Linked DNA regions of Homo sapiens: all the other regions are linked to region 1. The links come from fine-mapping of genetic effects on gene expression. A gene starts in region 1. Each other region holds a variant in brackets. All regions are shown on one strand. Distances are from middle to middle. Region 1 holds the start of KRT10-AS1 (KRT10 antisense RNA 1). Region 2 holds the start of KRT27 (keratin 27). Region 3 has its middle 21 kb from the start of KRT12. Region 4 overlaps KRT20 (keratin 20).

The links. PIP is the estimated chance that this variant, and not a neighbour inherited with it, causes the effect.
Region 2: its variant is fine-mapped to the expression of KRT10-AS1 in naive CD8 T cells (Schmiedel 2018, PIP 0.95).
Region 3: its variant is fine-mapped to the expression of KRT10-AS1 in whole blood (TOPMed, PIP 0.92).
Region 4: its variant is fine-mapped to the expression of KRT10-AS1 in whole blood (TOPMed, PIP above 0.99).

The regions. Positions count from the first base shown.
Region 1 is chr17:40,814,505-40,821,934 of GRCh38, forward strand. KRT10-AS1 (KRT10 antisense RNA 1) reads left to right here and starts at 4,641. Exons shown (of 3, transcript NR_160888.1): 1 at 4,641-4,704. It overlaps KRT10 (keratin 10), which reads right to left. Exons shown (of 8, transcript NM_000421.5): 2 at 6,531-6,613; 3 at 6,007-6,163; 4 at 5,758-5,919; 5 at 5,545-5,670; 6 at 5,013-5,230; 7 at 4,283-4,657; 8 at 3,613-3,978. The coding sequence ends at 3,972. RefSeq lists an enhancer at 5,151-6,350.
Region 2 is chr17:40,780,055-40,787,975 of GRCh38, forward strand. It overlaps KRT27 (keratin 27), which reads right to left and starts at 2,496. Exons shown (of 8, transcript NM_181537.4): 1 at 1,996-2,496; 2 at 1,134-1,216; 3 at 246-402. The coding sequence starts at 2,439. The variant C/CT (reference allele first, on the strand shown) is at 3,501.
Region 3 is chr17:40,842,663-40,850,583 of GRCh38, forward strand. No RefSeq gene overlaps it. Among named protein-coding and RNA genes, the nearest start is that of KRT12, 21 kb to the right of the region's middle. The variant A/C (reference allele first, on the strand shown) is at 4,589.
Region 4 is chr17:40,871,638-40,879,558 of GRCh38, forward strand. KRT20 (keratin 20) reads right to left here. Exons shown (of 8, transcript NM_019010.3): 6 at 6,508-6,728; 7 at 5,743-5,780; 8 at 4,252-4,821. The coding sequence ends at 4,724. The region is part of intron 1 of LOC105371777 (a long non-coding RNA gene); the gene reads left to right. Among named protein-coding and RNA genes, the nearest start is that of KRT12, 8.4 kb to the left of the region's middle. The variant A/C (reference allele first, on the strand shown) is at 4,039.

The DNA.
Region 1 (7,430 bases):
AGAATGGCGGTCATTAAAAAGTCAGGAAACAACAAATGCTGGAGAGGATGTGGAGAAATAGGAACGCTTTTACACTGTTGGTGGGAGTGTAAATTAGTTCAACCATTGTGGAAGACAGTGTGGCAATTCCTCAAGGATCTAGAACTAGAAATACCATTTGACCCAGCGATCCCTTTACTGGGTATACATCCAAAGGATTATAAATGATGCTACTATAAAGACATATGCACACGTATGTTTATTGTGGCACTATTCACAATAGCAAAGTCTTGGAACCAACCTAAATGTCCAGCAATGATAGACTGGATTAAGAAACTGTGGCACATATACACCAGGGAATACTATGCAGCCATAAAAAAGGATGAGTTCATGTCCTTTTCAGGGATATGGATGAAGCTGGAAACCATCATTCTGAGCAAACTATCACGAGGACATAAAACCAAATACCACATGTTCTCACTCATAGGTGGGAGTTGAACAATGAGAACACATGGACACAGGGTGGGGAACATCACACACCTGTTGTGGGGTAGAGGGCTGGGGGAGGGATAGAATTAGGGGAAATACCTAATGTAAATGACGAGTTAATGGGCGCAGCCAACCAACATGGCACACGTATAACTACGTAACAAACCTGCACATTCTGCACATGTACCCTAGAACTTAAAGTATAATAATAATAAAAAAAGTGGAGCAGATAGGGGAGTTGGGAGATTGGCAGGTAAAATTTTAAGCGGAAAATCAGAGTGGGTCTCAAAGAAAAAGTGACAACTGTGCAAAGGCTTGAAGGAGGTAAGGAAGACCATCTTGTTAAAGAATATTAACCAAGGTAACATCAAAAGAGAAATGGAGAGACATCAAAGAATTTTGATCAAATATAATTAGACTTACAATTTGATCTAATATATTAGACTTACATTTTAAAAGGATAACTATGGTTCTGTGTTGAAAATAAACTGTAGGGTAGTAGCTAAGCTTAAATGAGTTCATATACATGTTATATGTACTGAGTCTACCTACCTATCTGTATCTATCTATCTATCTATCTATCTATCTATCTATCTAATCTATCTATCTATCCATCCACACATTTACCCACCTACCTACCTATCTATCCATCCATCATTTACTCAGAACAATGCCCGGTGTGATTTAAAGGCTATTATTATCATTATTTTCATTGTCAAGCTTAGTTTAACCACAACTACCTCATATAAGGTAGCTATCCCTTATTGTATAGGTAAGTAAACAGACTCAGAAGGGTTGAAGTAACTTGTCCAAAGGTACATAATTTGTAAATGCCAGTGCCAGGATAGGAAGTCCAGGGATCACTGTGTTTCAGTTGCATGCTCATAAACCATGAATAAGCTCTTTCCCTAATTCCCATTCTCAAAATGCAATATAGATGAGAAATATTAGATGCATCCTATTTAACCTTAATCGAGTTACTTCCCTGATAAAGATGACCCTAACAAAGCTATTTCTTCACTCCCAAGCAAAATATCAAGCCATCATGGGCACCAAGATTAGGGTGCAAAGCTTTTAGGCCTTTAGCATCATAAGAGAACATCTTTGGGGAAACAGGATTTTATCGTGTAATATTTTTTGACATGGGTGCCGAATTGGCTCTGCCAATCTAATTAGGCACTACCCTGCTTAAATAGCAGGATTCTGTAATGACTTTAGAATCTGTAAGAATGCATACAGAATTTTTTGATTAATAGGTACATGCAAATTTATTTGGTAAAAATAGTGCCCTGTGCTATTTAATAATTTTTAAAAATAATTCTGTAATTTTTTTTACTATAAATACCAATGTCCTTATTAAAGACAAGTGGCTTATTTAGACAGATTATCTTTATTAAACCATAGTGTTGGGCACTGCGGCATGTGCCTATAATCCCAGCTACTCAGAGACTGAGGTGGGAGGATTGCTTGAGCCCAGTTCAAGACTAGCATGGGCAACACAGTGAGACTTTGTCTCATTAAAAAAAAAAAAAAAAAAGCAAAAACAAACCATAGTTATCCAAGTCCAATCAAGAAAGCAGCTGTTTATCTGAGATAAAGTATTTACTTTATCAGAGAGAATATAAATAATTGTTTAAGGAGGTATTGCAAGATTGAAATGGTAAGAAGACAGGACCACGATGTATGCAGACTTTTCAGGAATGAAAGTTTGGGTCACCATCCAACCACATAGAGGACTCTGACTGCTAAGATTGTGGCCTGGGGGAGGAGGGCAGAATGGGTAGAAGAGACAAACTTAACAGCAAGCACTGCTATCTCATAGTAACATATGTGTACTTGCCTCGTATCAGTGGTATTGAATATAAAAAATCTATTTCTTCAGAATAAGGTGAATGGTAACCTCAGATTATAAGTACAATAGGTCCCGGGGATTTGGTTAACCTTATAATACATATTTTAAAAGATGGTGTTTCTGAACAGCAGGCAGTATAGCACTATTTACACAGTAGGAGTTCAGAGTCCTTATACAGCGACGTAAGGACTTCACAGTGTTTCAGGGCTCTACGCAGTGAGGCGTGTTGGGACTTCAATAGTGGATCTGAGAAGACTGGCTCCCAAGGTTAGCTGGTACAAATATCCAGAGGCATGTGAGCATTTAGACATTTAGGCATTTAGAGGCACAGGAACGAAAATGGAGAGCCTCTGGGCTGTGCTAATATTTGGTGCTAAGCAGGTTATGAAGCCTTGACTATAGGGAAATCCATCCCATTGAAACAAGGCTCCTGTCATCAATTTGGGGTACAGAGGGTAGTGTCTACAGAGTGGAGTGCCAACAAATGGCATGGGGATCAGGGCTCAGATCTGGAGCTCAAATCAAGGATACTGAGGAAAGCTGCTACTTGGTGGACATGAGTAATCCAAGAACTCATCAGAGGACACAAGGTAGTCTAAGGGACACGCCAGCTTATTCCCTTCATAGGATCCCCAGTAGAGTACTAAGTAATGTTGGTTGGGTTCTTATTGGCTGAGGGATGTGACTGGGCTATGAAAGTACAAGGTCTTTAGTCCTGATCACTGGGCACAGTTGGGGAAGGCAGAGACCTAGTGGTGTCCTTTTGGTTACACTGGCATCACTACTTCCTGACAGCGTTTCTCACGTTCATCTGATGGACATCAAATAATTTTGTTGGGGGTGATATGATTTTACTTGGGTGGTGTCAGAAGATATGTCAAGCTATATAACAATTGGGAAGAAGTAATATAGTAACTGGAAGAAAGTAAGAAAAGGCAAAGGTGAGAAGTCAGGTAATTAGAAAATATAAAATTTCCAATTATTATTATTTTGGGGGTTTTATTTGAGATATTCCAGAATTTCCAGGATTGAAATAATTTAAAGCCAGAGAGCTGGGAGCCTTCCACATATTGTGTATCTTAAAGAGTAATATTGGGGATTTACAGACTTTACTCAGTGAATTTACTGACGGTGGTCTGAACATACATGATTAAAAAACTTAGAAAAGGCATGACAATAGTTCTGTCTTCCGAATTTCTGGATACATCAACCTTCAACTGCTATGGGTTACTAATCTTTAATTTTAAAGAGTATTATGTACTTAAGTAAAGATAAATTCTGACAAATTGGGATAGTTTGCATCAGTAAGAAAGTTTATTGAAATTCATTAGTAAATGAGAACAGAAAGTTGTTTTTCTTTCCATTAAAGAACACTTTCTGGTAAAGTGAAAAGAAGAAATACAGAAACCACAAAACACCTTGTAGACACCTTATTTTCAAGGTCTATTTCCATAGACCATCAAGACAGAAGTGTTTTCTTGGAGACTTTGTTTTCCATGCATCTGTAAATAATGGTCTGTGTGAAGGGAGACTCTTTCCTCTTGATGCAGTTTAATAGTAGTGTTTCTTGGTTTCTGATTCAACCATAGATGAAAGAACTCTACCGTCGGGCGCCACCTCTTCAATAATTGTCTTGATTACTCTGGTTTTGTTAGTATCTGTGTGAATGATGGAAAAAAAATTTTAAACAGTCTGTAGGGATCCTTAGTAATTAACAAGCAAATATTGTAAAAAGAAGGAAATTTCAACTTTACATTGTTAAGCCCAAAAAAATGCTTAAGGTATGACATTTTGATCATGCCATTTTTCACGGCTGGTGTTAAGAGTAGTTTGTGAACAAATGCAAACGGAACCGTCTCTAAGATTTTTAATTTTTTAAAACAACTCTAGAGCTTAAAGCGCAAAAAAACCATCACAGGAAGTTAAAACTAATTCTGATTACCCCAGCTAGTTTCTGCTGACCTTGGTCCCTTAGATGAAGACTCGCCCACGGACCCGGAAGAGGAGGACTTGTGGCCTCCGCTGGAGCTGCCGCCGCCGTATCCGCCGCCGGAGCTGCTGCCGCCGCCGGAGCTGCCGCCCCCGTAGCCGCCGCCGCCGCCGCCGGAACTGCCACCACCGTAGCCGCCGCTGGAACTGCCGCCGTGGCCGCCGCTGGAGCTTCCGCCCCCGTAGCCGCCGCCGGAGCTTCCGCCGCCGGAGCTTCCGCCTCCGTAGCCGCCGCCGGAACTGCCGCCGTGGCCGCCGCCGTGGCCGCCGCCGGAGCTTCCGCCGCCGGAGCTTCCGCCGCCGTAGCCGCCGCCGAAACTTCCGCCGCCGCGTCCGCCGCCTCCGGAACTAAACGGGGTGAGGTCACATTCGGTTATCTCTAACGTTGGAAAACGGTGGGTAGCTTTCCAGTTGCCGTTAATTTAGAAAATAAGCAAAACGTGTTGAAAAAATAAAACCCTGCCAGGTATATATTTTAAAACCCATCCTTTGAAAACAATGTTAAGTTCACAGAACTCTTAAGAATCATTTTGGGCCAAATTCATGAGAAAGTGAGATTGCGGTTGCGTACTCCTTTTTCTGTACTCTACCCTCTCTCCTCCCTTCCTCTCATTCTCTGGCATCTTCTTGGGGTTTAGATAAGCCTTGCTATCTGGAATATTGAATAAAAGAAACTGGGATAACTTTTCATTTTAAAATTTACCTTCCCTCTCCTTCTAGCAGGCTGCGGTAGGTTTGAATTTCATTCTCCAGTCGGATCTTAATATCCAGGAGTTGTTGGTATTCAGTATTCTGGCACTCGGTTTCAGCTCGAATCTGTTGCAACTGTTCTTCCAGAGCGGATATCTGGGCCTGAATCTGTGAGAGCTGCACACAGTAGCGACCTTCTGTTTCTGCCAAGGAGGCTTCCAGGGATTGTTTCTGAAACGGATTTTTTTGTGGCTTAGTGACTTCCTTGTTCAGTTGAGTATGGTGACGCTTATTTGATTATTTAGTAAGGCATTATATAGAAGAATAAGAAAATGAACAGAATTTGTTGTATGTTTAATGGCACCATTTCAGTTTCAGCACTTTTAGATCAACACTAGTAGTACTTTTCCTCCATTAACATGAGCTTCACTTTGTTTTCTCTTTCTTACCTCCAACTCTGCATTTTTTTGTTGCATTGCATATTCTTAGGTGAGCATGAAACTTTGTATGATAAAGTTGAAGTCATTTCATGAGAGTTAACATACCAAGGCCAGTTGGGACTGTAGTTCTATCTCCAGAGCTTGTACATTACGTCTCAATTCAGTAATCTCAGATTTATAGCTGGATATCTGTTCAATGTTATTATCAATTTCTGTAGTCAGTTCCTTGCTCTAGAGTATTAAAAACAAGGAAAAGGGTGAGGAAATTCTGAAATGATAAAACCTCCATGAGTTTCACTATAAGGAAGATTACTTTACCTTTTCATTGAACCAGGCTTCAGCATCTTTGCGGTTTTGTTCAGCAAGTTGTTCATATTGGCTTCTCATGTTATTCAGAAGTTGAGTCAGATCAACACCCGGGGCAGCATTCATTTCCACATTCACATCACCAGTGGACACATTTCGAAGGTCTTTCATTTCCTGTTTGAGGAACAGAAAGATTTATTGGCTACACGAGGACCATAATGAACTCTCTTTTGGCTGGGAAAAGTATAACTTTTGTGTCACCTCCTCGTGGTTCTTCTTCAGATAGGCCAGCTCTTCAGTCAGGCTCTCAATTTGCATCTCCAGGTCAGCCTTGGTCAGGGTCAGCTCATCCAGCACCCTACGCAGGCCGTTGATGTCAGCCTCCACGCTCTGGCGCAGAGCTACCTCATTCTCATACCTGAAACAAGCATGATATCAATACTGGTTATAACTTATATAGGGGAGATGTATCTGGGCAGAGACTATTTAAAAAGCAGCTACATAGTTGATCTCATGTAATGGCAATATTTGTCATGTACAGTTCTCTTAGAAGTAATAGTGGTTTAATGGAAAAAACCTTAGCAGTTACTTTAAAATGCATTTTCTTCCTTTAATATTGCCAAAAAGGTAACACTGACATGGAAAATTTCTCAGATAACTCCAATACTATTTAACTTTGGGTGAATTCAGAAAAATGTAAATGTTATTGAGGGCATCCCAAGTCATTGTTAAAAACCACTGATGTATTCGTTGTGATAGTATTATACAACGATCACTTAACTTACTTCAGCCTGAAGTCATCAGCTGCCAGCCTGGCATTGTCGATCTGAAGCAGGATGTTGGCATTATCAGTTGTTAGGTTGAGAATCTGGAGGGAGAGGCACAGTTATTTGAGAAGAGGTCAGATGCAGATATGGCTTTTGTAGTGACATAGATGCACTCTGCACTTTTATGTTGTTCTCTTACAAAATCTTGGGAAAATTTTTTATTTTAAATATGAAATATTGCAGGCTTACCCATATACTTAACTTTGAATTATTTGTTCTCTTGGAATTTCTCCAGTCTTGTATTTCTGTACACGAATTATTCCTTTCTGAAAACTAACTGGAATTATATAGATGTATTCCTGTAAGTGTGCCCTCCTCTTTTAGACTATGTGATTTCCATGTATTTCAGCCATGCTTTGGCTGACTCACACCTGCATTTGTTTAACTCATGATAAATACTAATAAATAAATACACTCTGAACTGGTACACAATAGGTACAATTCAGAAATTCCTTAGAGGCAAGCAGTGTCCCATTTTCATACTGGAAAATTTATTTTTCTTGCCATGTTGGTACTGAATATGGCTTGTTATCAGTCTGAATAACATTTTGTTCTGATTCATATCATGATTTTTTTTTTCAGTTTCTACATTTGTAAATAGCCTAGCATATTTTAACTGTGGACTCATTGTATGCTCATTAAAACCTCAAAAGTGCTTAGTAAATCTCCCATCCTCTTAAGACAAGTAGCACACTTGCTGGATGAAGATTGCCATGACCATAGTTTCACAGATGTTTATCTTTGATGAGACTGGGTTATTTTTGAAGGAAGAAAGTAACATGGGTAAGCATAGTGAACAGCCACATTGTGCTTAATTTAAGATTCATCTGTCTGGATTACATGGACAAGATACTTAAA
Region 2 (7,921 bases), 34 kb before region 1:
CCGCTTCTGGCCTGAATATTTTTAAAGGAGTCAGATGGACAAGATCTATAGGGTTAGAAACTTTTTGGGAGGTTTGTTTCTTTTGAGAAGAATGAATAGAAGCGTCTCAAACAATCTAAGCCTTATGGAGAAACTGACAGGTTCCTTCTTGAATGTTAATTTAAGACATTATATTTATCATCTGAAATTAGTTTTAAAATTTGGTAGGGAGGCGATTGTGAGAGCCAGCCGGGTGGAGCTTCTACCTCCTCATGATTCTTCTTGAGGTAAGCGAGCTCCTCACTGAGAGTTTCCAGCTGGATCTCCAGGTCCGTTCTGCACAAGGTCAGCTCATCCAGGACTCTTCGCAAACCATTGATGTCCGCCTCCACGCTCTGGTGAAGCGCTAGCTCGTTTTCAAACCTTAGAAAAGTATTTGGAAGTTTCATCATTAGTCATTAGACATGGCACATCACTTTTTAGATCATCATACAACTCAGACTAAGCTTTGAGGTAAAACTACTAAGATAATACTTAAAACTTCAGGCCGGGCGCGGTGGCTCACGCCTGTAATCCCAGCACTTTGGGAGGCAGAGGCGGGCGGATCACGAGGTCAGGAGATCGAGATCACGGTGAAACCCCGTCTCTATTAAAAAATACAAAAAATTAGCCGGGCGCAGTGGTGGGCGCCTGTAGTCCCAGCTACTCGGGAGGCTGAGGCGGGAGAATGGCGTGAACCTAGGAGGCGGAGCTTGCAGTGAGCCGAGATTGCGCCACTGCACTCCAGCCTGGGCGACAGAGCGAGACTCCGTCTCCAAAAAATAAATAAATAAATAAATAAATTAATTAATTAAAAAAACACATTTCAGTTAGGTCATCTATCATGCAATAAATACATTTCATTGAAGCAAGAGAATGGGAATAGCCAAAATTCTTTCTCATATGACTTTGACACTCGTTTTTGTTAGTCCCGAAATTTCCCAAGTAAAATTTGTTGCTCAGCTAGTTACTCATTCTAACAGGCATTTTGTTTAAAACAAATACATGAATAAACAAGAACAAAGGCTTGAGACAACGTCAAATAACTTAGAAGAATAAAGGAGAAAAAATGCTTAGACAACTTTTTTTTCCCATTTATCTTCAGCTCTACTTACTTTAGTCTGAAGTCATCAGCTGTTAGTCTTGCATTATCATTTTGCAGGACAACATGGGCATTACTGGTAGTTGCAGAAATTATCTGACAAATGAAAAGTTAGTTAAGATTGAGGAAATATTTAAGATGCATTTCAAAGTTCCTTGAAATAAAATTACCCATGAAATTATAGTAATATTTCTGGCATCTGTCTCTAATAATCAGACCATTCTTTTGAAGATGGGTAATTTAAGTATGGTCTCTCTCTCTGTCTTTTATTTTGAGACCGAGTCTCGCTCTGTTGCCCAGGCTGGAGTGCAGTGGCACGATCTTGGCTCACTGCAACCTCCACCTCCCAGATTCAAGTGATTCTCCTGCCTCAGCCTCCCAAGTAGCTGGGATTACAGGCATGTGCCACCACGCTCGGCTAACTTTTGTAGTTTTAGTAGAAACAGGGTTTCACCATGTTGGCCAGGCTGGTCTTGAACCCCTAATCTCAAGTGATCCACCTGCCTTGGCCTCCCAAAGTGCTGGGATTACAGGCTGAACCACTGTGCCTGGCTGGGTATGGTCTCTTGTATTTCCCACCCCAAGCATTAAAAAAAGCTCTTTCTATGGGAAAGCCTATAAATATATAACTGGAGACACTGGACAGCTTTTGATATTTTAATATTACCAAAAGCATATACCTAATACTACATGATGGACGTGCCATGTTCAAATATTAGAATTTATTAGAAATTATTTTTAATATTGAAAATGAACTCCTAAAATTTAGAAGCTGAGGGCAAAGCCCTGTTATTGTGATAGCTTATACATTTGTGCATCTGTGAGTGGCTAAACACTCTCAGGAGTGCTAACACTCACGCCATGGCGTTTCTTACCTGGTTCTTAAGTTCGTCAATAATTGGGAAATATCTGCTGTAATCATGATCAAGGCCACGGCAAGAACCAGGTCCAAATTTCTCATACCACCCCTTGATCTTCTGCTCCAAGTCAGCGTTGGCCTCCTCTAGGGCTCGAACATTCTCCAGGTAGGAGGCCAAGCGGTCGTTGAGGTTCTGCATGGTCACCTTCTCATTGCCAGAGAGGAGGCCGTGCTCATTCCCTGTGAAGGCAGCACAGGAAGCACTTCCCCCGCCCAGACCTCCGCCATAGCCTCCTGCAGATGAGCTGCCCCCAAAAGCACAAGAGAAGCCACTTCCAATGCCTGGCACACCGCATGTGTTTCCAGCCCCAAAGCCTGCTCCCCCACTAGAGAGCCTCACAGAGCCAGTGCCCCCGCAAGAGCCAAGTCTCCTGGAGGTAGAAGAAAAGCGCACAGACATGGTGTCCGGAGGCTGGAGCCTTTGTTTCTGCGGTGATGCTCTGATGGTGAACGGCCTACTCAAACAGCTTGGTTTGCCTTTATATACACATTATTAGGGTGTTTCTTGATGAGCTTTGCTCATAGCCAAATGATGTTTGCCAGCTCATTGTGAATTATCCATAATGGGGTGATTTTTTTTTTTTTTTAATGAATGGCTTTACCATACTGTGTCCATTTCTGTAGGTGGATAGTTATTGTGGGGTTATTTGTTATCTCTGGAGTTGGACAGGGTGGAGTATTATCAGGATTATTATAGTGATGCATTTCAAATTTAGTATGAGTAACTCTTCCTGTCTTCCAGGCTTCAGGAATGCATAATACCTATAAGAATAAAAAAGTATGATAGACAGATTTCTCTTTCCCTTGCTCAAATCAGCATTGCATTTTCTTCAGCAATGAAGTATCATAGTATCAGAAGAAGGAGGGGAGGTCCTAAAGGAAAACTGAGGCATTAAAGGGAATCTTCTTTGGAGACAGAAAGTGTTCCTTTGATCCTTATCCTTCCTGAATTACCATTTCATCTGTACTGGTTTTCTGTCTAAGTTCCATTGCTAACCAGGTTAAGTAAAGGAATTGGTCACCTCCTCGGGCCTCAGTTTCCACATCTGTAAAGTGAAGGGTCTAGACTGTGGTCTCTATATTCACTTTCTGTCTGTAGATTGCTCATATTTCTGCATTCCTTCTATTGGCTGTCCATTTCCATAGCACTTTTCTGCATTGCTTCTTGTACTTTTCACCTCTTATTTCTGAATTGTGGTCCCACTATTTTACTGAAATTAACCTCTCAGACATCACTGCACATCTCTAATCATCATTTCTTTTATTTTTTCCCCTATACCCTCTTGGTTACATTCAATACTGACAACCTCAGTCTGATGAGTCTGATCGAGTTTCAGACAGTTGCTTTCTAAGAAATTTTCTACATCTCATGTTGCTCCCCTTTTCTCTTCCACTTATAGCTCCTGTGCCCTACCTTTGTCATTTCTTATAGTTTTGTGCTTGGTATTTACGACTCTCTCT[C/CT]TTTTTTTTTTTTTTTTGACAGGGTCTCGTTTTGTCACCCAGGCCAGAGTGCAGTGACATGATCACAGCTCACTGCAGCCTCAACCTCCCAGGCTCAAGTGATCCTCCCACCTCAGCCTACCAAATATCTGGGACTACAGGCACACGCCACTATGCCTGGCTAATCTGTGTATTTTTTTGTAGAGTTGGGGTTTGCCATGTTGTCCAGGCTGGTCTTGAATGCCTGGGCTCGACAGATCCTCCCACCTTGGCCTCCCAAAGTGCTGGGATTATAGGCAGGAGCCACCTCACTGTCTTAATGTAAATTTTCCCGCACTGACTTGTCCGTTCTGTTTTACTACTTCCCTCTTTCCCATCTCTTTGCCTTTGTTCATGTTATTCTTTCCACCTGGTTTTCTTCTTCAGACTAAAAATTATAACAAATCATTTGAGATCTTGCATTTGCCAAGAATGATTGACATCACTTTCAATTACCTAGATTGAAAATGAAGTTGGCAAAAATATAAATTTTCATGACTTAATAAATGAGCTTGCGGAAAAAAAGCCAGAAAGATTTGTCAATCAATTTAATACATTATTAAAGTATTATGGTTTATTGTTTTACATAAAATTAGGACACCAAAACATTATTTCTTTGCTGTTTGTAGTTTATGCTGTTATATATGTGTACCCGTTACCTCATTACATGTTATAAATAATAAGACTTTTTAGAAGAAAAAGATTTATATTTTACTATTTCTTTTTTTTTTTTTTTGAGATGGAGTCTCGCTCTGTCGCCCAGGCTGGAGTGCAGTGGTGCCATCTCGGCTCACTGCAACCTCTGCCTCCCGAGTTCAAGTGATTCTCCTGCCTCAGCCTCCCAAGTAGGTGGGATTACAGGTGCCTGCCACCATGCCCGGCTAATTTTTGTATTTTTAGTAAAGACGGGGTTTCACCATGTTGGCCAGGCTGGTCTCAAACTCCTGACCTCAGACCACCCACCTTGGTCTCCCAAAGTGTTGGGATTATAGACTTGAGCCACCGCGCTGGACCTATTTTAATATTTCTAACTGAACTTTTTTTCTGACTTTTCAACAGGAGACCTCACATTTTCATTTTGCACTGGGCCTTGTAAATTATGTAGCCAGCCCGAATTGTTGGGTCTCTCTGAGGAAGCTGAAGAATCTCAGAGAAAATACCTCCAGATAGAATTGTTTGAGTGTTCTCCACAAAAAGGGAGCTCACTGTACAACCACTCTGGAAGGAAACACAGACACTTCACACAAAGCTTTCAAATGTTTAAGGTCTTACTCAAAACGAACATAATTTAAAATATCACGATACATTGAAAAACACTCCAACAAGAAAGACAGAGACTCAAACAAACAAAAAATAGCACTCAGGGGAAACAGAGATAATGAAGAACGTTGAAGAAAACTTTAAAAAAGAAACTACCTATAATTATTACTTTCAGAAGTAACAAAAATACTGTATATTTAAAACATGGATAGAACATCATTAAAATTGAACAGGAAGCACATAAAAGACCTCTTAGAATTAAAAACTAAGTCCCAAAAGAAAACTTCAATAGATGAATTGGAAAATAAATTTAAAAAAAAACTCCCCAAAATTAGAACAAAAAGATGAAAAGATAAATATGTGAGCCTTGAAAGAGCCAGTCTCTCTCTCTCTCTGTTTTTTTTTTTGAGACTGAGTCTTGCTCTGTCACCCAGGCTCGAGTGCACTGGCGCGATCTTGGCTCACTGCAACCTCCACCTCCCAGGTTCAGGTAATTCTCCTGCCTCAGCCTCCCAAGTAGCTGGGATTACAAGCACATGCCACCATGCCTGGCTAATTTTTGTATTTTTAGCAGAGATGGGGTTTCACCATGTTGGCCAGATTGGTCTCGAATGCCTGACCTCAAGAGATCCGCCAGCCTCGGCCTCCCAAAGTGCTGGGATTACAGGTGTGAGCCACCGTGCCTGGCGTAAAGAACCAGCCTCTTAAGATGAGTCCTGAGCAGCTAACTGGGCCTAAATTCAAATTAAAACCAAGCAACCATTTGCTGACTACAGGTCACATATTTACTCTGAGTTCCCAGAAAATGTGCACATCTGCTTAACTTTGGGACTTTCATAGCTTCCAGTTTATGCCACCTGAACCAAACAATAGGCTGTAACCTACATGGATCAATCAGAAGTCTGCATGCCCTGACTAATAAGAGCTAACTAAGCAAACATCAACCAACCAGAACTAAGTAAATTTCAATCCTGCATTTTGCATAAGCAGACCTAAGTGGGAACCTGGGTGGGAACTTTCTCTAAAAGACAAATTCCCTTCCTTTGTTCTCTGGAACACATTTTCATTTTACACCAAAGGCTGTGTCTCACCAGCTTGCTAGCTGTTTGCTGGAATGAAGTCTCTGTCCTTGAATTTCCTTCTCAGAGAACTTGTTTACAGATAAAAGAAAATATTAGAAAATGAGAGACTTGGGCCGGGCGCGGTGGCTCACTCCTGTAATCCCAGCACTTTGGGAGGCCGAGGTGGGCGGATCACGAGGTCAGGAGATCGAGACCATCCTGGCTAACACGGTGAAACCCTGTCTCTACTAAAAATACAAAAATATTAGCCGGCGGTGGTGGCGGGCGCCTGTAGTTCCAGCGGCTGAGGTAGGAGAATGGCGTGAACCCGGGAGGCGGAGCTTGCAGTGAGCCGAGATCGCGCCACTGCACCCCAGCCTGGGCGACAGAGTAACACTCCATCTCAGAAAAAAAAAAAAAAAAAAAAAAAAAAAAAAAAAGAAAAAGAAAATGAGAGACTTGGTCAAAGAAGAACAACATCAAGTAGGTCTTCTGGAAAGAGAGAAGGGAGAAATCATGAAGAAATTATTTTATAAACATATTTTCTGAAATACTACTCAGAACTAAACAACTGAGCTTCTAAATTCAAAGAGACCACCAAGAACCATGAATGATAAATGAAAAACATCCACAGTGAGGCACATCCACAGGATCTTTCAGAGAACCATGGCTGGGGGCGGGGGCGACAAACAAACACTTAAAATGTCAGGAGCAAAACCAACACATATTCAATTTTAGGAAAGCCATCATTCTAGTGAAGAATGCTTTCAAAATACGAACCCAGGCCAGGCGCAGTGGCTCACGCCTGTAATCCCAGCACTCTGGGAGGCCGAGGGAGGTGGATCACTTGAGATCAGGAGTTCAAGACCAGCCTGGCCAACATGGTGAAACCCCGTCTCTACTAAAAATACAAAAATTAGCTGGGCCATGGTGGTATGTGCCTGTAATCCCAGCTATTTGGGAGGCTGAGGCAAGAGAATTGCTCGAACCCATGAGGCGGAGGTTGCAGTGAGCTGTGATCACACCACTGTACTCCAGCCTGGTTGACAGAGCGAGATGCTGTCTCTTAAAAAAAAAAAAAAAGTGAACGCAAAATGATATCCAACCTTTTATTTCTAATCCTTTCCTAAGGTTTGTCACCTCATTTCTAAGTTTTTTTCTAATTGTGACTTATGTAGAGAACCAAAATTCTCTACTTTAACAACCACAAGTGAGGGTGGAATAAAAATCTTTTCCGACATGAAAGGTCTCAAAAAAATTATCTCTTTTGCACATTTTGTCAGGAAGCCACTAGAGAGAAAAACATGAAAAAGGAAAACTTAGGTTCCTGGAAATGGAGTTCCAATGTGAGCGCACTGAGTGAGTGTTCCCACATGACAGCTGGGTAGCAGGCTTAAAAAACAGCCAATGTTGCATAGGAGGACAGGAGATTCTGAAAGTGAGCACTTCAGGGGGATAGATGAAAATGATTTCTTGGTAGTTTTAATTGCATAAGAAAGTGGCATGAGAGATAAAGATACGGAGAAAACAGGGGTTAAACTACTTAGAAAATCGTTCTAACTTTAAACTAAGGGTCCTCCATGAATTCAGAAGGGAACGGAACGGCCTAGATCCTGTGAATTCTCAAAACTGACCAGCCATGGTTCCCTCCTGGGAGAGCAACCCACGACAAGGAGAAACTGCTAGGGGAAGAATCAAAATTATTCAGGAGAGGGTCACAGAGAGGAAGGAAACAGAAGGTCTAGATACAAGTGGAGGAGGGAAAAAAAGACAGGAAATTTCAGAAATCAAGCCAATGTATTTTTGAATCCTAGATAAAAACAAGAGAAAAGGGAGCTCTGTGAAGTTAGTAAAGCTATTTGGAATTATACTTTATTATTATTATTTTTTGAGACGGAGTCTCACTCTATTGCCCAGGCTGGAGTGCAGTGGCACGATCTTGGCTCACTGCAACTTCTGCCTCCCAGGTTCAAGTCATTCTCCTGCCTCAGTCTCCTGAGTAGCTGGGATTAGAGGCGTGCACCACCACGCCCAGCTACTTTTGTATTTTTAATGGAGAAGGGAGTTCACCATGTTGGCCAG
Region 3 (7,921 bases), 28 kb after region 1:
AGCTTCAGATTGCTTTTGAGAGGGGCAGTGACTCAAGAAAAGTATTGCTTCAGGAAGATTAGCCTGTTGGAAGTATACTAATTGGTTTGGGAGAGATGGAGCAAGGGAATCGGTTAGGAGAATGTTAGTGTCTACATATGTCATCATGGACACAGAAAAAATAAGCTGATTGAAAGAATAATAATTATTATTTGATTACTGATTGGATATTGAGGTGGTCAAGACCAAGAAAGTGTCAGAATAGGAAAGCCAGGAGAAAGAGTGGTTTAGAAGTACAGATACTGAATCGGAAATGATGGTTGTACATTCTCATGGTCAGCCTTTTGCTTCAATTTCTTTAACATGTATTGGTGCAGGCTTCACAGAGCAGAAAACACTCCTGCATGCATATTGTTAGCTGTTCAGAAGCTTTCTGGACTTTCTTCCAATCCTTCTCTCTGTTCACTGCTGCCTGTTCACTGCTGCAGGTAAGGTAGGAGGAAAGAGAATATCTCAGGTGGGATCTGGTAATAAAATAAGAGGAGATCTAGTTATCTGTGGCAGCCTTATCTATTGGAACTACAGAAACAAGCTCACTTCTCTCCTGCTTGTCTCCTCATTAGATAAAAGGAAAGATTATGGGGGCAGTGGGTGGGAAGAGTAGTTAAGTTACAGGAGTTAACAGAGTTAAGTAACTATGATGATGAGCTCTTTCCCTGAAGAACCAAGCCTGTGTGCCAAGGTGGGGCCGCTTTTGCTCAGTGTGAGAGAGGGTGTTTCCCCCATCTCTGGGGAGGAGTAGAGGAACCAGTACCTGCTGAGGTTTCCGTCATTGTTTTGCTGCCCTCTTCCTCTCTGCCGCACCACTCTCCCACCCCCTGCCAGCTATCCTGTGTTCTGAAGTTGCTGCCTGGTACCCCAAAGCCACATTCCAGTTTAGTTTGTCCTCCTTTGACTTGCTCCATTTGTCTGTTTTCTCCTCTTTACATACTGAGACTTCTCAGCCTGGTGTGGGAATAGGTATTAGGAGGATAACCATCTGGTGAGTCTAATTCAGTCTAAGGTGTGACTTACTGACTGACTGCCAAAGGTGGGTAGGGTTGGAGAGGTATTCACTGAAGCTATTTACATTTTTTTAAAAAACACACCTTTGGGAGGCCAAGGTGGGCGGATCATGAGGTCAAGAGATCGAGACCATCCTGGCCAACATGGTGAAACCCCGTCTCTACTAAAAGTAGTCCCAGCTACTCGGGAGGCTGAGGCAGGAGAATCACTTGAACGCAGGAGGCGGAGGTTGCAGTGAGCTGAGATTGTGCTATTGCACTCCAACCTGGCAACAGAGTGAGACTCTGTCTCAAACACACATGTGCACACACACACACACACACACACACACCAAAAACAAAAAACACCTTTTATCTAAGTGGAATTTCAGGCACCGTGGTGGTAAAAATTTTGAAGAAAATATTTTTCTGTATTTTTCCAATTAATACAACTTGACTTTAAAATTAACTGTAGCAGGAAAAGCACTTTGTTGTCTCTAGGCCTCTTTTCCTCACCTTCTGGAGGGAAGGGACAGTATCTTGGCTCTGATTGTCCTATCTTTTGTACAGTTCACTGAATATATATCATATGCCATATATTTTACTGGGGTTCTGAGGATGCAAGGATAAGTAAGATGTGGTCTTTACCTTCAAGGAAGTCATATCTTTTGGGTCAAAGGGTAGGAGACAAGGCACAAATAATTACAAAATAGGATGAAGAGTTTGGAAATACAGATTTATCTAAAGTATATGAAGCACCAGTAAAAAGAAACCAGTTTCTGGAGGACTTAATGAGATGTCTTTTGAATGATGTCTTAAAGAATGACTTAGAATTCATTGTATGGGAAAAAAAAAATCTAGGCTGAGGGACCAGCAAGTATAAAGGAGACATAAACACACACGACGTATTTCAAGAACTGAGAAAAGTTTGGTTTAGCTGGGACATAAAGTTTATGTGAGTGAGTGCCAACAAATAAGTCTGGAAAATAGGTTTGTGCTACATAAGAAAAGACCTGTAATGCCATTTTAAGGAATTTGGACTTGATCCCTTAGTCATGGAGTGGACCGTTGAAAGCTGCTAAATAGGGGAGGAACATGACCTTAATTTTTTGAAAGATAACTTTGTTGACAGTGTACTAGATGGATTGGGGGGAAACTGGACAAAGGGAGATGAGATGGGAGAATTTGCAAGAGTCTGGGGAGGGGAAGAAACAATGAAAATTTCACAAAAGTGTCAGTGCAGTGATAAGAATGGGAAGATAGTCATAGATAAGGTGGCATTTGACTTGGCTGTTTGCCCGTTGATGATGGAGGGCATCTAAGATGACAAGACGTTTCTAGTTTTGAACTTCGGGGAATGCTATTGACTGATATGTGAATGCAAAGGGGGAGCAGTTTTTGTAGGAAAGATAACAAATTTAGGGAAAGGAAGATTGAGCCTGAGGTACCTATCAACATTCAGATGTAGATATTCCATAGGCAGCTGCAGTGTGGGTCTGAGATTAGGAGAGAAATTGTGATTTGGAAGTTACTGGCAAAGAGAAACCATGAACTACATGAGATTTCTCAGGGAGAATGAGTAGAGATGAGGACCATGGATAAAACCTTGAGGAGCTGCAATATTTAATGAGAATATAAAAGGCTTGAGAGATAACATTGAAAGATAAAAGGGAGAACCAGGGGACAGAAGTTTCAAGAGAGCCAGTGGAGAGGAGAATTTTGAGAAGATGGGATGGCCAACAGTGTTAAAGATGTCAAGTATGACTAGAACTGCAACATTACTTTACAATCTAGCTGTTTGTTCTGAAAAGATCCTAGAAGTACTGTTGTCTTTTGAGAACAGGGAATGAATTCTCTCAAAGCTACCAATTACAGTTAATACACATTCTCAGTCTTTATAGTTTAAGCATCATTTAATATGACCAATTTTGCAAATTAAAGGATCACTGAAATTGAAATAATTTAGGAAAGAGCTGAAGGCCAGAAATTACCTATATTGAGGTGGTAGTTGAAGCCTTTAGAATAACTGGATTTTATAAAGGGGAGAGCAGAAGTTTAAGGCTGAATGGTGAGGAAACCCTCAGTTAGGCTTGGCACAGAGGAAAAGTACCCAGTGAAGGAAGTGAATAAGGAGTGATCTGGAAGTCTGGAAAAAAATTCAGGCAACCAAGGATGGATTGTAGCATATTATGATTCACCTGGTAGAGTTTCCAGAAGGAGGTTCTTCCGGGTCTTGAGTTTCAAATTCTGCATAGAGACCAGGAAGAATGAGGACTAGAAATTAATGTGCATGATAGTGCCACAAGATCCTTGGAGATCTGGGTGCAAGAATATACTGGACAATGTAGGGGCACAGAAGCCAGACTGTCTGCCATTAGGGAAGGAAAGGGTGGTGATGGAATGAAGCCATCTGTGTCTTGCACTGCTGCAGCACACACAGTGAGTATAAAAGAAAAAAGAATGGTGTGGAGCTAAGCAAGGGTGGAATGAAGACAAGATGGTTGGGTGCAGAACATACTGGGAAACAGAAGCAAGTAGAATTTTATAGCTCTTTAGAGGTATTTCAGAAATGTTTCCTCTGGGAAATAAAGAAAAAGAGGGCCAGGCGCGGTGGCTCATGCCTGTAATTCCAACACTTTGGGAGGCCGAGGTGGGCGGATCACTTGGGGTTGGGAGTTCAAGACCAGCCTGGCCAACATGGAGAAACCCTGTCTCTTGTAAAAATACAAAATTAGCTGGGCGTGGTGGCACATGCCTGTAATCCCAGCTACTTGGGAGGCTGAGGCAGGAGAATCGCTTGAACCCGGGAGGTGGAGGTTGCAGTGAGCCAAGATCATGCCATTGCACTCCAGCCTGGGCAACAAGAACAAAACTCCATCTCAAAAAAAAAAAAAAAAAAAAAAAAGAGAGAGAAAGAGAACACTCAGGGAGCCAATAAGCCAGATAGCACAGGTAGGTACCTGGAAGGAGAGAGAAATCAGAAATAAGAGTGGTTCAAGACACAGTTCAAGAGCTCACATCAGTAATATAGGAAACCATCTGTTGAATGAGCCATTTAAACTGTATCATAGGGAACTTAGCATAAAGAACAGGCATGTGGTATAATTAAAAATGACTGAAAAAATTCTGCATTTTAGAAGCATCATTGTGGCGAATGTGCAGGAAAGTGAGTGCTCAGGAAGTTGGCCTTAGACAGCTGGAAAGATATGTCCTTCATTGCCAGTAAACTGGCATTCTAATGTGCACATCAGCATTGTGTGAATACAGTCACTGTAAGTCTATCATCAAGTGTCAGGTTACCTCTGGGCATGGTGAAGTCTAGTTTCTGGACCTGCAGGGCTATGAGGAACAGATTCTGGACTGTGGTAAGTTTTTTGAAGTAATTCAAATTTATATTAAATTTGTATTTTAAAAAACCCTTTTGATAATCAATCTAGTCTTGTGGGCAGCTTTTCATTTGCTTCATGATATATTCCTGTACCCTCCATGAGTGGTGTTAGGAAAAATGGCAGTAAGTATTACTTTTAACAGTTAGTTGGTAGAATAATTTACTCACCGTATTCACT[A/C]AAAAGCTGATGATTACAAATAGAAAAATAGTTTTAGGAAATGTGGAGCTTAGAGAGAACAAACACAAGTCATTCTTGCTGCCACTCTCCTGTACTCATGTCAGACATTACTAATTGATAACACATCTTCCTGCTGAACCCAGACTGGCTGGAGAATTATTCTTAATAAAATTAATCCAGGAAGCCCACAACCAATTGCCTGAATTGAGCCATGTGAATAAAAACTCTGCCCTTTCTTTCTTTGTTTTTTTTTTTTTTTGAGATGGAGTCTCGCTCTGTCGCCCAGGCTGGAGTGCAGTGGTGCAATCTCAGCTCACTGTAACCTCTGTCTCCCGGGTTCAAGCAATTCTCCTGCCTCAGCCTCCCAAGTAGCTGGGACTACAGGCATGTGCCACCACGCCCAGCTAATTTTTGTATTTTTAGTAGAGATGGGGTTTCACCATATTGGCCAGGATGGTCTCAATCTCTTGACCTTGTGATCTGCCTGCCTCAGCCTCCCAAAGTGCTGGGATTACAGGCGTGAGCCACCGTACCCGGCCCCAAAACTCTGCCCTTTCTAGTGTAAATGAGTTGCTAGGAATTCTGGTCATCAAAATTACAGAATTCAGCTGGAAAGAACCTAAAGTATGATTTATCTTTTGAATTTAATGTCATGGGGGAAGCTAAATATGCTCTTTGGCCAAAAGTCTGTGGATATTCTGACAGAAATAATACCAGACTGGATAAATAGACAAATTATCAGGATAGAATTATCTAGACCAATAATACATTCACTGTTATAGCTTCAACCAGAACAGAATTTGCAAAGGATATTAGAGGTCATTGCCAGGCTTCACCTTCCAGCATTGCCTGTTACAGGGTGTATGGTAAATTGCTTAATCTCTTTTAATCTTCACGTGAGAAATAATATCCAATTCATAAATCTGAGAATACCAATTTAGATAACACATACAAAGTGTTCTTCTACAAAGTGTTCTACACAGTGGGTACTCATAGACATCTGTCCTTTCTTTCTTCTCTTGTTAAATATTCAACACTAAACGGAACCCCTTATCAGATATCTCCAATCTCTACTAAAATATTTCTAGTGATGAGAAACTCATTGTCTCATGAAGCACTTCACCTTCCTTTGAAGTGCTCTAATTATTAAAAAGCTTATCTTTCTATTTAACTGAAATCTGCCACACAGAATATAGCTTTGCTGATGGAGAATCTTTTGGGTATTTGACAAGATTACTCTGTGTTTCTAAGTCTTTTATTTTCCAGGTTATGGATCACCAGTTCATTCAACTGTTCCTTAGATGACGTGGTTTTCAATTCCATTATCATGTAGGTTGCCTTAACTTGGATCACTTCTAAATCTGTAGGATTAATCTGACCTCTCTTTTTCTGTTTCTAGTATTAGCTTAGGGAATATTTTTTAAGGAATGCCTGCTAACTGTGTTTTATCCCATTGCACTTGATCACCAGCATAATGCTACTTCCAAAGATATAACACAGAATTTATTGTTTTCATATGTAAATTTATAGAAACTATTTAAATTTAATAATTAATTATTAGTAACCTATAACCCCCCCCCCCCCCTCACCACTCCTTGGTTTCAGGGTTTGGTTTCAGGGTGGCTCAGGTGTCTTGAACACATTTGTAATGGAAACTTGATAAACTCCTATTTTGGGTTCACCCTCTTTTCTTGGGTGTGGGGCCAAAGTTTGTCACTTAGATTAACTAGTTGGCTTGCAAGCTATAATTATCTTCCTCCTCCAATTAAAATCACATTTCTGTATTGCCACATCTAGTTATTGCAAAATCTAGCAATACACCTTGGATTCTTATTTCCCTCTAAGCAGACTTTCCCTGACGATTCATATTTTTTCTTCTGGGTTGTTCAACTCTTAGGTATTGCTCTTGTCCCACTGCTGAGTAGGACATTGTTTCCAACAAAGATTGATCATTGGGTAATTTACAATATTGTTGGTTTTGTTTTTCTGTGTCTCATTTGCTGTATTAGAATGATTAACACACATTATTATATTATTATTTCTAGATTTGATTAATAGAATTTTGGGTGACTCATATACTCCAGCTATACCTATGTGACAGCATAATTGGATCCAAAATGAAAAATTCAATCAACATAGGGTTTTATTTTTAATTGTGCCAAATGAAAGGCTTAATTAATAATTTTCATTGGATTTTAGCTAATCCGTTTACCGGAATTTTTCAATCATGTGTTATGAATGTATAAACCTAATGTGATATTTCTAAACATCATTTCAACCTACATGTATTTGGCATGCCCACATTTTCTGCCAGATGCTGCATTAAGTACTGGGGACTTATTTCTGGATGGCCAATAATACCTGGCCCAGCCTTTGAGGAGGAATAAGATACAAAAATTCGTCTTCTAAAAAGGAAGTGCAGACTACCTGGGTCAAGGAACTTATGGTTCTCAGCTGGTGTGATGATTACTTAGTTTTATGGGAAAACACTCCAGAGGACACGCTCTTTGGTCCTATTCTTGCCAATCCACTCCCATTTAATACCATATGTTGAAATTTTATGTACTCCTCAAGGCTCTGCTCAGATGCCTTTCTGCTGTAAAGAGTGGTCCTCATATCCCAGCCCTTTATATTACCTCCCTTTTCCAAACTTCTGTGGCAGGTCACTTTATACCTGGCGAGGCAAGGTTATTTGCATACCTGACTAGTCCGCTCCCATTTGCTTCCATAGTGACCAGTAAATATTAGTTTGATTGAGAGAAAAGTGTATTTTACTTATTTTTAATTTTTATTCCTAACTGCTAGACCACCAAAGAGAGAGAGCACAATGTTTTTTAGATAGAACACCTCGTTATTAAGGGAGAACAAGTTCTATTTTGATCTAGATTGGCAGGAGTATTACATTTTCAGACTGAATATTTTCATGGAAAGCCAGTGTTCCATCAGCCATTTTAAGATAACTCAGTTTTGTATCTATGGTTAGGCGATTGCCTACATACAAAGCACACTTTAATGACGAATTAGAGGATTCCAAGCTTGCCTTTATAAGTGAATATCTACAGATTTTTTTTTCTTATAAATACTACATGGAAACCAAGTTACTCTATGTTTTGAAAGCAACTTCTAGTACTCTTTAGATGTATGGGAAAAAGTCCTCAGGTTAATTTCCTTAAGAAAAAGCGTCATGAATTAAAAGACTGCTTGTTGAAACTGAAGATCACTTTCTACTGAGTCACCAGATATTGAGCAATATGATTTATATCAATATGCCTTGTGAAATTGTCAAGTTAAAGATTGTACATATTAGATAAGAAAATTTTGTGTCCCTATAGA
Region 4 (7,921 bases), 57 kb after region 1:
GCTATGACACCTGACACTAGGCTTCTGCCCTGCACATCTAACAGGAGGTGCTCTTTTTTTTTTCTTTTCTTTTAAGCTTTCTCCTTGAATTTCTCAGTGTATGGGCTGAGACCTAGAGAATGACTTTTCATGGCTTATAAGCAACAACATGACACATGAAATTCTGTAAACACACAGGCAAATGCGGTTTTCATTTTAGCTTTGACCTGTAACTACATCTCCAGAGATCTTATAAAGCACAAGTTAAACTTGCACTCCCCACACAAGAACTTGATGTTATGGTTGTTAACTATTATTCACTCCCAAGTGTCCCCCAAGACAGAGAGATTCCATTTTACTGCCATAGAAATGAAAACAGAAGCAAATAAAATGTCAAAAGAAATGTGCCAAGTTCAAAATTGTACCTCAGTGATTTGATCACATAATACGGGAATATGATTAAGTTGAATTTTTGAACTTGGAATTGATTTTGTGCTGAAAGGTACACTTTCCAACTCTAATGCCTATGGTAAAATTTAAATAATATTGCTCAATCTCTAAAAATTATGTTTATATATTATTTGTTTATGTTTCTATACATATAACATATTATCCTAGACTAAGCTTGTTAGGTAGGTACTACATCTAATTTATTTTTTATCCTGAGTCCTAGCCTAGTGTTTCGCTGAACTTTATCACTGCACTCCTTGAATGATTTCATTTGAAAGAAGTTAAGTCTTAATGTGTTTGAATGTGTCATTTGAAATTCATTTCATTTGAAAATGACTGTGCCCTAATTTACTGGTATGCTTTGACCAATATTTATTCTGAATTCAGTTATGAATGGGGAGCAACTTCAGAAGTTGAAAAGGGAAATATTTCTTCTTCAGTGGCTTTTTTTTTTTTAAGTGGGAGGCTAAGTTAAATAATCAAGACTCTGCTTTAGAGGTTTTAGAAGTGAAAATAATTTTCTTTGACAGCCACATTAATGTATAAGGCAGTGGTGATGTAAAAAACAATAAACAATCTTGGGCTTGTTGGCAGAGTGATTGCATAAGTTGAGGCAGAGAGGAAAATGATTATAGCCAGGGCAAACTGTTCAAAAGAATTATATCTTCCATTTTTGTAGAGTTTAGGAAATGTTCAAAATAGAGAAAATTAGTTATGTGGTTTTTACAAGTCTTTAGATTTTTATTGAGTAAATCATACCCTCATCTTTTCATGTCAGGTTGGTTTCTGTCCTGGTCTTTGCAGGGTTTTCTACCTGAGTTTTTTCCCGTAAGACAGACCTGTCATTTTCTGCAACTCGCTGATCCCTTGATCTGTAACATCTTTCACTTTGGATAACATTATAAAATCCTGTGAGTGACTGAGAGAATTTTGGGTTGCCTACATTTTATGTATTGTGCTTTTGAGATGAGGGTTAAACAAGGACCCTAAGGGGTATGAGTGAGATTGACTTCTGGGCTCCAGAGATCAATGGTTCTTGAAAGCAGGGGAGAATTTTGAAAGTGGTAGGAGACAGGAAGATGATAAAATAATACCCTGATGAGAGGAATCTTGGAAATGAGCCTAGGGGAGAGAAAACAGAGATGTTTGAAAGAGAATTCAAAAATAAAAATCACTACTAATGCTTTAAGTTGGAATTGTTACTTGGGGGTCTAATCAGGTACCTGAGGCTGATCCTGATGCATGTGGATGAGAACAGAGTGTCTGAGGAGGTCACTGGCCATGTTTTGATTTTGTATCACTCCATGTCATTCTCCTTTTTAGATGATTCAGAACTCTGGGTAGAAATAATCTCCAGAGCTCAGAAAAAATAGTTATTTCCATCCTAACCTCACCTCTAGGGGCTCTCTCTGAGTTTGATAGCTTCACTTCTGCACTGACAATTTCATATAAAATGAAAAAATACATTGATGATAATTCTAATGTGTGATAAAGACTTCTCTCTGGATCTGTTTACCTGTCAGAAATAGGATTATGTCATTCTAGTTCTTAGCTCATATCAGAAATATAGATAGATACAAAGATTAATGCTTCACTTTCACACAGTAACTGCTGGCAGAACTGGAGGTAGAACTCCACCATCTGGTCCACATGTATGTAGCTCTCACTCACTTCTTTGAAAGATTGCTTGGAAGAAACTAGAGACAGACCAAAGAAGCAAGAGGAAGAAAAAATCTTCATTTTTCTGATCTAAAAATAACAATTCTACTTCTTTTAACAGGTAGTTAAAAGAGGACCATCCTAAATTAAGAATAACAATCCTACCTCTTTTAACACAGTGTCATCATTGCCATATAACAGTGGTCAGGCCTAATCAGTTACAAACCCATCTGCATAGGTTTCTTATTAATCAGATTCACAGTCTGGTATTTGCATGTCAAAGTTTCAGACTATTCTGGAATGTGTCTCAGTAGGTGAAAAAGAATTCACTTTTAAATATTCTTAACATCTTTAAATGCAACTTACTAGCTAGCGTGACTTGGAAGAAAATTAAGAAAAAAATGAGTGAAATCTTTTCACTTTGGAAAAGAAGGCAATGAGAATAGGTGAGAATACCTTTTCTGACAAAAGTTGTACTGAATCAAGTCATGTGTGATGTTAGCCAGCAAAGCTGGACATTTGCCACAATTGGCTGTTGTGTCTGGCTGATGAAAATGACAATTAGAAAACAACAAAATAACTGCGGATAGGCAAGTGCCTATTTCAACTGTGAATCATGTATTGCTTTGTTATGTAATTAGTTGCTTATGAGGGTGTCCTGGTTTTAGAGAAACAGCGCTGAGGTTCAGTCTCGCTCTACTACTTGGTAACTGCTTGACTTTGGGAAAGTCTTTATCTCATGTCTTCATATGAGTCCTCATTTATCCTCATATGTAAAGTGGGGGTAACATAATAAGGTTGAACCTTATTATATATGCTATATAATAGCATATAAAATTGCTATTTCTGAAAGTCAGAAATTATCATATATTGGAAAGCTTTAAAAAAATCTTTATTCTTTCAATTTAAAATAATGAATCAAGTGCCTGCTATGTGTTAGATATTATATTACATCTTAGGAATTCAAAGTGGTACCATTCACATCCTCAAAAATTCCCAACTCTTAGAAATTATCATATATTGGCAAGTTCATATGATTCAACCTAATAGCTTCTACCTCACAGGATTATTGTGAGAATTAAATGAGAAATGCATGAAATGTTTGGCACACAGGCTCATAGTAAGTGCTCAATAAATGGTGGATATTATTATTCTTAAATGAATCATGTAATTATTTTCTATATAATAATCAAACTCAATCCCACTTATTTGCAACTTCTGTATCAAGTTTTAAGTCCAATCTATTTACTGGAATACAATGATTTAGCACACATTGATTTTTCCCATAAACATTCATATGCAATGATTGCTCACTAAAATGCAAAAAGGGTGAGGATACAATATGTGTTTTTATTGTTTTTGGATTTGGCTTCTTTCACTTAGCATGTTTTCGAAGTTCATCTCTGTTATAGCATGTATCAGTACTTCATTCCTTTTTATTGACGAATAAGATTCTATTGTGTGGATATATTACATTTTGTTTATCCATTCATCGGTTGATGGACACTTGAGGTGTTTCGCTTTGGGGCTTTTATGAGTAATGCTGCTATGAACATTTGTGTATAAAAGGACACATCGTATTAACCTATTTATATGAAATGTCCAGAGTAGGCAAATCCGTAGAGACAGGAAGTAGATTAGTGGTTGTTAGGGGCTGGGAGGAAGGGAAAAGGCGGTGACTACTAATAGGTACAAGATTTCCTTTTGGGGTGATGAAGTGTTCTAAAACTAGATAGTGGTGATGGTTGCAAAACATTGTAAGCATACTGAAGACCACTGAATTGTACGTTTTGTAAGGGTGAATTTCATGGTGTGTGAATTATATCTCAATAAATCTGTTATTAAAAAAATGAGAGACATTTCATTAAAAATATATGTTCACCATATAAAGAAAGAGAGGACCTGATAGTATATGCAGCTTATTATCAAAAGGAGACACATTTTGCCTTG[A/C]GAAGGGTTTCAGTAATGTTGTTTTTAATCTATTTCCATTTTAAGTATAGTGTACTTCACTCTTATTCTGCTCAGCATTTGTGATTGAATTTGACTCTCAAATTATTCAAAAAGCTGTGTTGAGTTTTAAAAGGCAGTGGAAGCAATGGGAAAAAGCAGATATAGCTCAAAGGTTGTAGAGTTGTACTGATGCTGAAAAATCAATAAGATTAACCCAGAAATTGGCTCAATAAGAAACCAGGGACTCCCAAAGGGGGTTTTACAATTCAGAAACAGGAAAAAATTAGAAAGTGGTTTATTTGCAATTTACATGGATTCCTCTACTTTGTGAGGTTTAGTATAATTGAAATGTATTGCAATTTTCAGGAACATTACCTACAAATTGATATTAGGTGGTCTACAGCTTGTAATTGATGTGCTTCATGATAAAGATGGCAGTAATGATGTTTTAAATATTCTAGTGCTCACTGGATTTCATTTTTGCAGGCAATTTGCAGCTCCTCTGAGTAAAACATTTATATTCAATTACAGAGTCTGATAAATAGGATTCCCGCCACCCCACCCCTTCTAATCACTGCAGAGTATTAATAGTGCTTTCTTATGGCTGATTTCTTGCAGGGAGCAAAGATAAGATTATAGCCAAATTTCTTTCAAAACCTCAGCAGCATCTCCTTCTGGTAGCTATTTAGATATTTTCTTCCACCTCTTTGACTTCAGATGACACGACCTTGCCATCCACTACTTCTTGCACGACTGTCTTAATCTTCCTGGTTTTCTTTATATCTGAATTCATATTAAACATTAAATGTTAATTCAGGCACATGACTCTGCTGATTTATAATATTCAACTTTAAATTATTATTCTTTTTACTTATTTCCTTCTTTTAGAAAAATATGTTAAACCCATCCTCTTTCTCAAAAAATCTTAAGTCCATTTTATAAATAGATGCAGAAAATGTGCTTCTCCCCAAATTTACAAATGTCCTACTCTTAAAAATTCAAGAAATAAATTATCTTGAATTTAAGTGGAATTCAAATTTTGTCTTGTTTTTCCTTTTCAGGATGTCAGGATGTTTCAAGATAGCAATAGCACAGGCCAAGAAAATCACCCCATTCTGAGGAGTGTGCCCAAGTTCCCATGTGGAGGGTTTCTTTATGCCATGTACAAGATTTTTAGAATCCCTGGTGTCATATCTGCTCCCTTGAGAATTGGCCTTTGCTATGGTTTGAATGTGTTCCCTGGAGTTCATGTGTGGAAAACTTAATCCCCAATGTAACAGTGTTGGGAGGTGCGGCCTAGTAAAAGGTGATTAGATGATGAGGGCTCTTCTCTCATGGATGGATTAATGTGGTTACCATGATAATGGGTTAGTTATTGTGAGAGTGGGCTAGTTCTAAAAGAAAGATTAGCCTCCTCTTGCTCTCTGGTTCTCATGGACACTCTTTTGCACTTCTACTTTCTGCCATGGGATGACACAGCAAGAAGGCCCTTACAAGATGCCGGCACCTTGATATTGGACTTTCTGGCCTCCAGAACTGTGAGCCAAGTAAACGTCTATTGTTTGTAAATTATCCAGTCTCAGGTATTCTGTCACAGCAGCAGAAAACAGACTAAAACAGCCTCACTTTACTTTTTATCAGTGGCATGTAGTTAATAGAAAGCAGCTGAATGTCATAGAAAATGTGCAAAAATTTAGAACTTACCTCTCTCTTCCAGGGTGCTTAACTGATATTCTGTAGTTCTGTTTTTTTTTTTAATGAAAAGAAGAAAAAAGAAACAGAAAAAAGCATTATTGCTGTTTTGAAAATGGAATGCACTCCTGTCTTTTATATTTCAAAGTCCAAGTGAATGTGTTATTGCTTTCATATATCTTTCCCTTTTACATTGCTTTTATTGCAAACTTGAGCATTTTACTTTTTAACTTGAAAAATACATAGATTTAAAACTGACCAGTTTAATATATGCTAAGAAGTTCCTCTAATTAAAATAACAAAATTACAATGGAAGTTTAAATCTTGTGTTCTCTTGTTGATATTCTTAGGTATGGTATCTGAAGACAGTTGCTGCTGCCACACTTATGATTCTCAGACTGGCTCCCGTGGACCTCAGCAGCTTATTGTCTAATTCATGAGCTCTCAATTAGAATTTCCAAAAGGTTATTATGCCTTCAATTATATATTAATGATGAAAATTAATATCAGCATAATCTATATCATTTGGAGAATTATCTCCAAATGATCATGTGGTAGAACTCAGTCCTACCACATGATCTCAAGGCTGTACTTGATATTTTGGGCGTGTGTGTATTTTTTGGTATATTTTCGTTTTGTTGTTCGTGGTGAGGCATGTGTGAGTATAATTGCTTCTGTCCTAGGGATTGCATTGGTGCTGGGTAATGAGTGACAGGGACATTAAAATAGAAGTGCATACAGATATTGACACCTATTCCTTGATTCTAAGAGCCTTACTTTACGTCTTCTCCTTCCAGAAGGCGGCGGTAAGTAGCAATTTCCTGTTCAAGTCGAGTCTTTATGTCAAGAAGGATATGGTATTCGTTGTTCTGGCGTTCCATGTTACTCCGAATCTGCATCAGTTGGGCCTCCAGAGAGCTCAACAGCGACTGGAGGTTGGCTAACTGGCTGCTGTAACGGGCCTTGGTCTCCTCTAGAGTGTGCTCCAAAGACTCTTTCTATGAGCACAAGAAAAATAGGGCACTTCTTATGTGAGGACTTGATTCAAGAGATGGGTTAATTTTAATTTCCTTTGAGAAGGGTCTCTGCAGTTCATCACTGTGGGCATGGTGTATATTTCTAGCTCCATCTCCCACTCTTCCCAACTAGGCAACCTCAGCCAGCCAGCTAGGATCATTAGCTCTTGGGGTTTTTCTTTGCTTGTAGCTTTGCACCTACTGTTCTTTCAGTGCGGCGCATTGTAGCATTGTTCTCAGTACTTGCTTCCCCACTGTGTGAAGATGTTATACCTCTCACTCCTTCATCAGACCTGGCCATGTGATCTGTGGCATTTCTCAATTGCAGGATTAGATTCCTTTAATCCATTGACACCTGGCTGGGTCATGTGACTCTCTTTGGTTAATAAAATGCAGGTCAAACTGACAAATGCCTTTTCTTTTTCTTTTTTTTTTTGGGACGGAGTCTTGCTCTGTCGCCCAGGCTGGAGTGCAGTAATGTGATCGCAGCTCACTGCAACCTCTGCCTCCTGGGTTCAAGCGATTCTCCTGCCTCAACCTCCCAAGTAGCTGGGATTACAGGCACACACCACCATGCCCAGCTTATTTTTGTATCTTTAGTAGAGATGGGGTTTCACCATATTGGCCAGCTGGTCTCAACCTCCTGACCTCAAATGATCCTCCTGCCTTGGCCTCCCAAAGGACAAATGCCTTTTCTAAGGAGAAGCTTTAAGAGCTATCAAGTGGACCAACCATTGCTCTTTTCTTTCTGCCAGGACACTGGCATGTCCTAGGTAGGGCCTACCCCTTTAGCCTTGCCCTTGGAAAGGAAATGTCACGGTGGATGTAGTATCATGGCTGCAGGCCACTGTGGTTTGAGGGATTCTGCTTACCACAACATAATTTGTCATGGGCTTGCTGATTTGCTTGGCCTGGAATGTCTCTAGTCCATTCTCCATCTTAAAATTTTATCTTAGATTTTGAGATCTGGTATAATGGACACATACAGGGGAATAGCAGACATGGGGGCCTAACAGAGGGTGGAGGGTAGGAGGAGGGAGAGGATCAGGAAAAATAACCAATGGGTATTAGGTTTAATACCTGAGTGATGAAATAACCTGTACAACAAATCCCCATGACACAAGTTTAACTACATCATAAATCTGCACATGTACTCCTGAACTTAAAAGTTACAA